2 separate regions of the Homo sapiens genome follow, and region 2 is linked to region 1. The links come from fine-mapping of genetic effects on gene expression. A gene starts in region 1. The other region holds a variant in brackets. All regions are shown on one strand. Distances are from middle to middle.

What was found.
Region 2: its variant is fine-mapped to the expression of MXRA7 in sigmoid colon (GTEx, PIP above 0.99).

What each region holds. Positions count from the first base shown.
Region 1 is chr17:76,708,611-76,713,972 of GRCh38, forward strand. It overlaps MXRA7 (matrix remodeling associated 7), which reads right to left and starts at 2,355. Exons shown (of 4, transcript NM_198530.4): 1 at 1,995-2,355. The coding sequence starts at 2,336. It also overlaps a transcript of JMJD6 not described here. RefSeq lists a silencer at 2,377-2,586.
Region 2 is chr17:76,682,443-76,687,804 of GRCh38, forward strand. It overlaps MXRA7 (matrix remodeling associated 7), which reads right to left. Exons shown (of 4, transcript NM_198530.4): 3 at 2,630-2,723. Among named protein-coding and RNA genes, the nearest start is that of MXRA7, 26 kb to the right of the region's middle. RefSeq lists enhancers at 1-533, 1,627-2,171, 4,154-4,949. The variant A/G (reference allele first, on the strand shown) is at 3,089.

The DNA of each region.
Region 1 (5,362 bases):
TCACTGACTCGAAGCTCATCAAGACAATTTCTAAGCAGCTTCTTAGGTTAATGCCACCACTGGGAGTGGGTGGGATGACACAATATCTGTGTCCCCACAGCACCTGGCTTAATGTTTGCAGGCAGGAGTTTTGGGGGAGCTTTGGCCAGCTCAGGAAGGCCTGGGGACTTGAACCCAAAGGGGAAGGGCACTGACTTCAATTGAATTCTCCTGTGGGGTGGGTTCTCTCTGGAGGGTGCCTTAGCGGGAGGACAGACACAAGCCTCAAGTCATCCTCACTGGCACCTATGTCATGGGGGCTGCCTGGCACGCGAACCCCCATACTGCCTTGTCCTTCAGAGCACCCATTCAGCTTCAGAGGACGTGCATTCACCCAGACAGTGGCAAATTATGCGAGTGGCCCTATTTAAACACCACTGAACCTATTCCTGTAGGTACCATGTGCTGAGAGCCGAAAGCCTTGTAGAAAGTTCTTTAAGCGCTGTGCCCCACAGGATTGAGCTAAGACAGGGCGCCGCTAAAGGACATTTTGCACTTCAGTCCAGAGCCTGGTGTGGGTGATAAAGGGCCAGCCCTGTAAGGCCAGGACTGACTGAGTGTGCATGACGGCTCCAGAACTGTCTAAAGGCCTCTCCTGCTCCCGCGAGACCTCGATGGAGGCAGGAATCCCAAATATGGGAGCAAACACAACAGATCAGCACATGTCCAAACCGCGCCCCCTCCACCATCACCGCGTGAGGTCTGGAAGCCCACCCCAAGCAAGAACGGCAGGGCCTGCCCCTGCTCCACCCCATTAAATGTGGCTGGTTAGAATCCTCTCTAATGACACAATTAGTCACCCACTTGTCAAGCAAAGCGCCTGCTCAGAGGGGGTCTGGCGCACTTACTCAGCAAAGAGAAATGCCTCTGAGCACAGCCTGGCTGCCTCCTCCTCCCCCGAAGGGCTTCTCTCCAGGGTAAACCATTGTGTCCAGCACAGGACAGAGTGGGCACGCAGACACGCAGGCACGCTGACAATGCGCATCCCGGCTCTCCTCCCTTCCAAGAAAAGGAGCTCAGGGGTAAGAACAAGGGATTACAATCCGACTCGGAGACCCTGGCGGTGGCCTGGACCGGCCAAGCGTGGTGAACTCCAGGGAACATGGGCACACAGTGTAGGGGCTGGGATGAGTGGATGAGGGAAATCCGACTCCTCTCAGATATCCACAGGCAGGACAAGGTGGCCAAGGCCGAGCTGATGGACAGCATGGCGGGAGGCCTGGGGCAGAGGCAGGGAGGGCCGCTTTGGGGTGCTCACTGGTGCTCCAGGAGGGCTTTATCCTGCATCTTCACTCCATCCAGGCCCAGCTTACCTACAACCCGGGGGAGTGGGGGTAGGAGGGTGTTAGATGTGTAGCTTGAAAACGACAATAAAAAGGACTGCTGGGATCGGGTGCCTTTTCTTTCAGTCCCAGCCCACGGGCTTCACAAAACGCCACAGCACTGACTCTGAAATCTGGACTTCAAATTGGCTGAAAAAGAAAAGCCAGCTTTCCTCCCTCGCCCCCCGAAAGTCCTACTTTTTAAACATCAAGATAACTCTCATGGCAGGCCTGGAAATAAGCCACAGGCACGTGGATTTGGGAACCGGTGGGCGGGAGGGGTCAGAAGTGGGTGAGGAGCAAAATTCCAAGCCCTGGTCCCGAGGCCTGGGAGCCAGCAGCTGCGGAGCACGCCCTGGGCTGGGAGAGGCCGAGGGGAGGGGAGAGCAAAACACCTCCAAACAAACTCCTTCGGGCTCGCCCCTCGCCACACTTTCTGGGGGAGGGCGGCGAGTTTGCGGGGCTGCGGCTTAGCATGGCGGGACCTGCATTTCCTGCGGGCCGCGGGTTCTGCGCTTCCTGGGGGCAGCCTGGGCTGGAGGCCGCGGCCCCGCTCCCTGGCTCGGCGGGGAACGGCAGCGGCAGCCGGAGCCCCGGGGGTGGGGAGGGGGCCGCGAGGGCCCCGGTGCGTACCTGCCTCGCCTCCACCGCCTGCTCCTCCGCCTCCGCTGGCGCCGCCGCGGGATCCCCTGGCCCTTCGGGCTCCCCCGGTCCCGCAGGCTCCCCGAGCTCCCCCAGCCCCGCGGGCTCTCCAGGCTCCTCCGGCCCCGCGGGCGAGGCCGCCGGCTCGGGGGCGCAGGGGCGGGACGGCGCCGGGGCCCCGGTGGCCTCGGCCGGGGGCGCGGGTTCCGGGGGCGCGCGGGCAGGCTCCGGGCTCGCGGCCGCCCCACGCCGCACCAGTAGCCAGGCGAGCAGAAGGGCCAGCGCGGTGGCCAGCGCAGGCAGCGCGGCCAGTAGCTCGGCCGGCGCCTCCATCGCGCCGCGGCCGCCGAGTGCGGGCCAGCTGGGACCCCGAGGGAGCCCGCCGCGCCCCGTCGCCGCGCCCGGTCGCCGCGCCCCGCCTCGGGGCGGAGCCCCCATCGCCGCGCCCCGCCCCCGCCCCCTCCGGCCCCGGGAGGGTGACGCACAGGCTGCGGGCGGGGGTGTTGAGGGGGCAGAGCCCTGACCACCTGGGAGGCACAGGAGGGCCAACCCCTGCCCGGCCTGGGCAGCCTTGACGCTTTGGGGCACAATTTAGCTCAGGTTCAATTTGAAATACTGTATGAGGTGCCCTTAGGTTGTCATCTTTGGCCTTAGTACGGCGGTTCGTCTTAGAGCATTTTGGAAATGTGGGAATGCAGAGAGACAAGCAAACCCGGGAAGCTTCATGGAAACGGCAGCCTGGATTGGCTTGTAAAGCAATCATAATGCCGGATTACGTTCAGCCACTGCCGTTTTTATAGGCATGTCAGGAGTTGCTTTTAATCCTCAGGGTTGCCTTAATGCACTTTCACAGAGGACATCTCCAGATCCCGGCCAGTGAATGCTCCCTTCGGAGCTGAGGCCAGCAGCCTTCAACACAGGCCTCCCTGTTAACAGTAACATGGCTCCCCCGCCCCTAGACCTGAAATTCAGCTGCAGGTCCTTGGTCAACGCTATTCCTCTTACCAGACTTTCTTCTTTGCACAATTCCAGAATGCATGCAGGGTGGGAGGGTACAATGAAGGAAATGAAGGCTATTGTTTTTGTTTCTCCAGATCCTCCCAGGCCTCTGTTGCTGAACAGTGGATTTTGAGATAAACACGTTGTAACCAAAAACATACTTTCCTACCACTCCCCACCCACTCTTTAGTTATTTTAAATAAACACAGGACGGGCATGTCAGGTATCACGCCAAACATAAGGCCTAATGTTAAAAAAAACACGGTTCCAGTTTTTGCTGAGGATGCCTTTAATACTTTTTTGGGAATATTACAGTGCCTGAGCTGATCTGTGATATAAACCAGATATTAGATGGAGTGCTTCTTTTTAAATGAAGATACACAAACGAGACCCCTCAGCAACAGGGAGAGCTGAATTCTGCTGCACTGCACGATATTAAGCGGGCCATGCACTTCCTTTTAGTGGTGGTTGATGAAAAGAGCCTATAAACTATAAAATGTGAAATAGGCTTTATCTACGGGCGACTAGCTTTTAACCACTGTGGAAGTTTCAGCCAGTGTATGGGCCTATTTTTTTTCTTTTGAGATGGAGTCTTATTCTGTTGCCCAGGCTGGAGTGCAGTGGCGCAATCGCGGCTCACTGCAACCTCCACCTCCCGGGTTCAAGCGAAACTCCCACCTCAGCCTCCTGAGTAGCTGGGATTACAGGCGCCCACCACCATGCCCGGCTAATTTTTTTCTGTTTTTAGTAGACAGGGTTTCACCGTGTTGGCCAGACTGGTCTTGAACTCCTGACCTCAGGCAATCTGCCTGCCTCAGCCTCCCAAAGTGTTGGGATTACAGGCGTGAGCCTCCGCGCCCAGCCAATTTTTTTTTTTTTTTTTTAAAGAGACAGGGTCTTTCTTTCTTTTTTTTTTTTTAAAGAGACAGGGTCTCACTATGTTGCCCAGGCTGGAGTGCAGTGGCTATTCACAGGCATGATCATAGCTTTCTGCAGCCTCGACATCCTGGGCTCAAGTGATCCTCCTGCCTTAGCCTCTTGGGCAGCTGGGATTACAGGTGTGCATCAATGCTCCTGGCCCAGGGCCTTAATTTTGTGCTCCATCCCATTGTTTTAAAGTGTAAATACATTTTTTTAAAGTCCTGTTCTGCTGACAAAGTACATTGTTGACTTTCAAATGAGTAAGAAAGAAAATAAGGACAAAACAATGCCAAAAACACAACTCCAAATCATGTTGCTTTATTTAAAATGATGAACAAGTTTCACCCAAGTGAAAGTTTAAAATACCAACCCAATAGCAGATCCACAGGCTTTCATGGCAGACCCCATGGCTAGACGGACGCAGAACTAGGAGACTGCTCAGTGTTCTGACAACTCCAGGAGGCACGAGTGTGCAGAAGACAGTCCCAGTTCTTCTGTAGCATCCAGTCACTTTGGAGACAGCTGGCCAGGGCTAGCTCTCCTCCCAGGAGGTTCACTGGGGCTTAGATGACATTTCTTTTTTTTTAAAGACAGAGTCTCGGTCTGTCACCCAGGCTGGAGTGGCTTGATCTCAGCTCACTGCAACCTCTGCCTCCTGGGTTCAAGTGATTCTCCTGCCTGAGTTGACCAAGTAGCTGGGACTACAGGCATGTGCCACCACACCTGGCTAATTTTTGTATTTTTAGTAGAGACGGGGTTTCACCGTGTTGGCCAGGCTGGTCTTGAACTCCTGACCTCAAGTGATCCACCTGCCATGGCCTCCCAAAGTGCTGGGATTACAGGGGTGAGCTACGGCGCCTGGCCGAAATTTCTGAACAATGAGACAAAGTTGAGAGCCACCGCCTGGGGGTGCAAGCTCACCTAGTTTTGCTGCATAGGATGTCACATCTTGACACAAGCTAGTGGGAGGGGAGTGTGGAAGAAGCCGCCAGACTCCACTTCAAATCTACCAGCAATACCAGTACACACATCAAAAACAACTTACTCGTGGAAATACTACAGACAATCTAAAGAACCTACAGCTGGGGCATCCTTATACGCCTTCCTCCTACACAGCATTTTTTACATTTACTGCAAAAATTTTGTTCCATCCTATACTCGTCTAAAGTCCTAAATCCAAGGCTCAGTCTCTAGTAAGCTTATAAAGCATTTGCACCAGCAACCTTCCCACAGATCCTTAGTTTTGCTACTTTATGAAGAAGCTGTTACTACCTTAAGTATACATTGGTGTTAATTATGCTCTTTCATGTAGATCCGTTACACCTGCATTTAAGAAGGTCTGCACTTTCTTCTACCTGCCCTCACCAGCGGCCCTGTGAACAGCCGCAACAGCCGCACATTCACTGTCCATTAAGCTTGTGGAGCTTGTCAGGGACCTG
Region 2 (5,362 bases), 26 kb before region 1:
TTTCATACTGATGATTCTAGGGCGGTTCCCTGGACTTGGCTGGGACCAGAACTGTCTCACAGCTGCCAGCGCTCCCCACCCCCATGAGAACCATCGTGCTGAAGATGAAGAGCCAAAGCCAAACTGACCAGCCTCTGCAACCCCAAGCATCACCGTGTGAGGACAGCGTGATGTGGAGCCGCGGAGACCCCACGCAGTGCTGCGAGGGGCAACCACATGCAGGGGGGCAGAGGTGTGGGGGAGCAAGCAGATGCCACCGGCATGCCTAGGAGCCACAGGGAGCATGCGGGCTGGGCAGTGATGGGAATGAACGTGAACTCCAGTCCTGCCCCAAGAAGTCCTCCGGCCCCTCCTTCTCAATTCAGGGCACAAAGTGGTAACTGCAGCATGCAGAGGAGTCGAGGAGTCTTCCCTCGTCCCAGGAGCAGCACCTCGGGCACAGTCTCGGTCCCACAGAACAGCCAAGTGTGGGTTGGTGGTCTAGAGACCTCCAAAGATCCAGTGGGGGAAGGATGGGCAGCAGAGGGTCTACTCTCTGAAAATAAGGGGAAGGGATTTTCCCTCCCCACTGCCAAGGTCCCAGCTCTGGACGTGGGTGGCAGTGGCAGTTTCACCCCCAGCCGGAGGCCTGGTCTTTCTTGTTCTAAGAGGCCCTCCAGATCCATCTGCCTGAGCAGCCTCTGTCCCCAGGGACCTTCAAGGGCTGGCAGTTGTGTCCAGCCCCCTCTAGCCTCTGTCCAGGGACTGCAACCTTTTTCTGCAAACAGCCAGATACTACTTAGATTTGGGGGGCTGTGTGGTCTCTGCTGCAGTGACTCACCTCGGCCACTGCGGCACAAAGAGGCACAGACCACAGGAAAATGGGTGAGTGTTGCTACTACTGCCACGCTGGATTGGCACAGGCAGGTGGGGGATCAGATGTGGCCCGGCCGTTGTCTGCTAACCCTTGCCCTGATCCTAAGAACCTGCCTGTCTCACAGCTTGGGAGCACGGACCGTTCTCAGAGTATCTGCTGTGCACTGTGCAGAAGCTGCCTCATCTTCTCAGGGTGAGACCCAAGGCTGCAGGGTGACGACATCCACATTTCCGAAGCCTGAGGTCCCAGGGTGACAGTTCCCCCAGCCTTGCGAGGGGGCGCTAGCACCCCAACCTGCCGGCCCATTAGGCCCCCTCCAGGAACTCAGGGACTTAACTCCCCTCCAGGAACCTCTGCCCCCAGACGGGGCCTCTTCTGCCAGAGATTCCTCGTGCTTGAGAAGAATGAGAAGGGCTCAGGTGGGAAATGTATTAATCGGTTATGAAGGCGATGGAGGAGGGGAGGTTGAGGCCGCGTCAGTTGTTTGGGGGCACGTTAGCACGCAGTAGAAGGGGAGCACCACTAGTCTAAGAAATCAGTGTCCTTACCAAAAGGATTTGCAAGAATATTTGTGGCTCAGGACCTAAGGAACTTGCTACAGGGAAGTGAGGTCAGAGGTCAGCTCAATCCTGAAATATAAATGCAGCAAACCTGGTCATGCCAAGCGGCAGCATCCTCAGCACCTGAGGACTCGGGGCTCCTGCCAGGGCTCTTCCTCCTGGCTGTGCTTACACTGCCCGCCCCCCACCCACCCAGGGTGAAGAGCTTTCCTGCTGAGGGTCGAGAGCGCTGATGCCAGCAGCGGGAGGGGAGACAGGGCCTGTCACCGGCAGAGCAGCTGTGAGGTTAGAGGGCTGCCCGGCGGGTGGCTTGGCATGCAGCCATGAGAGGGCAGTTGAGTTCTGATTCCAAAATCATAAACCACCCCTCCTGCTCGGACCCTAGACCGCTGGTTTCTGCTGACAAGTAGGGGGTGATTCCCACAAGCTGCTCTGGGTCGCCAGGCTTGGAAAATGGCACAGCTACCACCTAGACTTCTGCTTTAACCAAAGGACTCCAGGCCACGCTGCAGAAGGGCAGCAGTGTGGGTGAGCACCAGGAGCCTGCTGCGCCTGGTGCAAAGGACTGTCCCTCTGCTGAGACCTCCCCAGCTGTCCCACTGTGCCCAGCGCACCCCTTCCCCGCCCAGCAGGATGGTGTGGAGGGAAAAGGTGGCGGGGTGCCCAGTGGCTGTGCAGGGGGTGTCCAAATGGGAAGGGGGAGCCAATTCCAACAACGAGAAGCCATAGCTGCACTGCCCGGAGCTACAAGGCGCTGCTGCAGGCGCCGGCCTGGGAGGCCGCTGAAGGATGAGCACCAAGAATCCGCTGTGTCCCGAAGGAGAAATGGAGAAATCAGCTCTGTTGGGGACTGTGTGTGTGAGTGACAGCCAGGTCTGCTCCAGGCTCTTTCCTGGCATCTCATTTCTTTAGATGGGGGCAGTGGGGTGTGGAGGGGGTGGGGGGGTGCAGTAAATGGGCTCTGTATCCCCCATCACCAGTGGCCTCCTTCTGGTCAGTGCCAGGGAGGGGTGCCAGGGGTGTGCGAGCCTGGCTGACCAGGGCAGGAAAGAACTCCTAAACTGGGAAGGTGGGGCGGTGGTTGGGCAGAGCGTGTAGGAGCCCCACCTCCTTTCTGGGCCCTTCTGCCAAGGGGCAGGAACATGAAGGGCTCAGAGGGGCACCCCCCTCCCCCAAGAGCCCGCCAGGCGCCAGCGAAGGGGCTGCAGCCTACCTCTGCTCCTCCTCCAGCTCCTCTTTGGTCATCATCTTCTTGTACTGGTTTCCCCTCAGCTTCCCGGGGCTGTATTTGAAGGAGAAGCCTTCTCCTGTGGAGGGGGGACCCAGTAAGTGCCAGGAGTGCTGTAGAGGCTGGCCCCACAAACCCCGGCCCCCTTTCCCTAGGTTTAAAAAGAAACACCTCAAGCAGAGGCCACATCTGGCTATCAGAGACATCTCACCCCAGCGCCTATACCCCCTCTCGTTCCATAGCTTTCCCTTAAATCCTACAACGAGACAGCCAGAGAGAAAGCAGTCCTACTCCTAGTCCACAGCTGTCTCCAGATGCCACATCCCTCCCAACATCTGCAGTGCTCTGCCTTGCCCTGGCCCTGCCCAGCAGGTCCTCTCGGCTACTGAGCTCAGAGGCGACAACTCCGGCAAGCAGAGCACAGCTCATCTTGGGACACACACC[A/G]CGCCTGCCTGGGCTTGGGGAGGCTTGTGTCATCCCCCCACCCCCTGTGGCTATTGGAAATCTGAAAACACGCATCCAGGCAGCCCACAGTGGCCAGGCCAGGGATGCGGGATTTGCTGCAGCAGGTTTGACGTGTGTACCGCTGAAGAGGCAGAGCCCGATTTGCCAGTCCCCGAGGGGAGACCCCCCATTGCTGCCTGCAAAAAACGGACAGATCTCGAGGCCTGAAGAGGGCACATGGATGGGTAGGTGGTGGGCACAGAGGAAGCCAGGACCTGTGGCCTGGAGTGGACACAGGCTCCGGGCACATGAGCCACGGTGAGGAGAGAAAAGCTGAGCTTCCAGAGGGAAAAGCCCCATGGGGGAGCAACCTCTTGGTTCCTGAATCCAGCAGGTGTCGGGCAGAGCTGGCTGGCCTCTTATCGACCTCCACTAACTAAAGGACCCAGTGAGGGAGGCATAGAGAGATCCTCAGCTGCTATTCTGGAAGTGCTGCCCTCTCTGTCCCTCCATATCCTGTCCAGCAGCCCGAAAAGCCAGGCCCCTCCCCTCTAGCTTGCAGCCTTCATGCTACCGGATAGGCTGATGTGGACCGATGGGGAGGCGGGGGGGCTCTCAGGGTGAAAGGAAGAAGGTTCTAGATGCGAATTCAGAACCCAAACATCTGGTTGGGTGTGGTGGCTCATGCCTGTAATCCCAGCACCTTGGGAGGCCAAGGCAGGTGGATCACTTGAGGCCAGGAGTTCGAGACCAACCTGGCCAATGTGGCAAAACCCCGTCTCTACTAAAAATACAAAAAATTAGCCGGGCGTGGTGGCAGGCGCCTGTAATCCCAGCTACTCAGGAGGCTGAGGCAGGAGAATCGCTTGAACCCGGGAGGCAGAGGTTGCAGTGAGCCGAGATCGCGCCACTGTACTCCAGCCTGGGCAATAGAGTAAGATTCCAGTATCCCCCTACCCCCCAAAAAAAGAAAACATACAAAATCCTGCCTTGGTCCCAGTCTTAGGTTTCAATTTATGGGGCAAGTCTGATTAGTTTTGTTTTCTGAGCCAGACAGAACAAACGACTTGAAAAGGATTTCGCTCAGTCACATGCAGTGCACCAGGCAGCGCATCCAGTTTTGCTAGACCAGAATTCAACGTGACAGCCTCCGAGGGACGGGGGAGGTTTCTTCCTCCAGTCTCCTGTGAATTCACCTAGTCGCTCAGGGAAGTCATTTTAGCGACACTAATAATTAACCTCTGAGGCTGCCTCGTACTGCAGAGGGGCTGGAGGTGCTCACACATTCTTCCAACAGCTGGAGCCATAAACCTTTCCTTTCCCTGCCTTGCTAGAGATGGCAGGAGGCTAAGATGGCAGGAGGCGCTGGGGGTGGGGGATGTTCAGGAGCAGCGGTGCAGATAAGGGGGGAGGCTGGTGACAGTGCTGGGGGACTGTGCCCTCTGGCAGCTATGCCAGGGAGAGGGGTCTGCGAGCCTCTCTCCTTGTCCTTGCCAAAGGGCCTCCCTCCCGTGTCCCCAAGTCACTAACAGGATCCCTGCATCCCTTCAGCTGTCTCAGGCCACATGGCAGGGACAGATGCCAGGGCCATGGCTGCGGTGAGTCCCCAGTCCCCAAAAGCAGGGAGCAAGGGTCCTTCCTGGTAAGGGACTAATGTCCCCACCTGCAGCCCACCGCCTGCACCCAAGCTTCATTCTCCCCTCCTGCTTCAGGCTGTGCTGATGGAAACCAAGGCACTGCCTCAGGGGAAGCTCTGCACCCCAGCCCAGCCTGCCCGCAGGAGCTGGTTCCTACATTCCTGAAACCTTCTCTTTCCACTGCTCCTGCCAGCAGCCGACTTAACATCACAAAAGCAGACTTGCTTTTTTAAAATTATGAAATATTTCAAACATACAAAAATGCAGAAAGCACTAATCCTCCCTGTGCTTGCCACACAGAGCCAACAAACGCTGACATCTTGCATGTCTGCCTCCGCTTTCTTTTTTAGAGAAATAAGTGGATGGACCCAGCAGAAGCCACTCCATGTTTGGTTCCGCCTCTGTCTGTCCTGGCCGGGTCCGATCTGGCAGTGTCTCCCCTGTTCTCGGTCACTCCCTTTCTCCTCTCAGTCTCATGGCTGGGGCCTGTGGCCAGTCAGCCAGAGCTGCTTAGAAAGCAGGCGTGTGCCCTCCTGGGGCCTTCGTTCTGAAGAAGGCACGGGGGAGGCCGTGTGAGTGGTTTTCGTCTCAGTAAAATAGGTCAGAGATGTTTGGAGAGAATCGTGAAATGTACAGC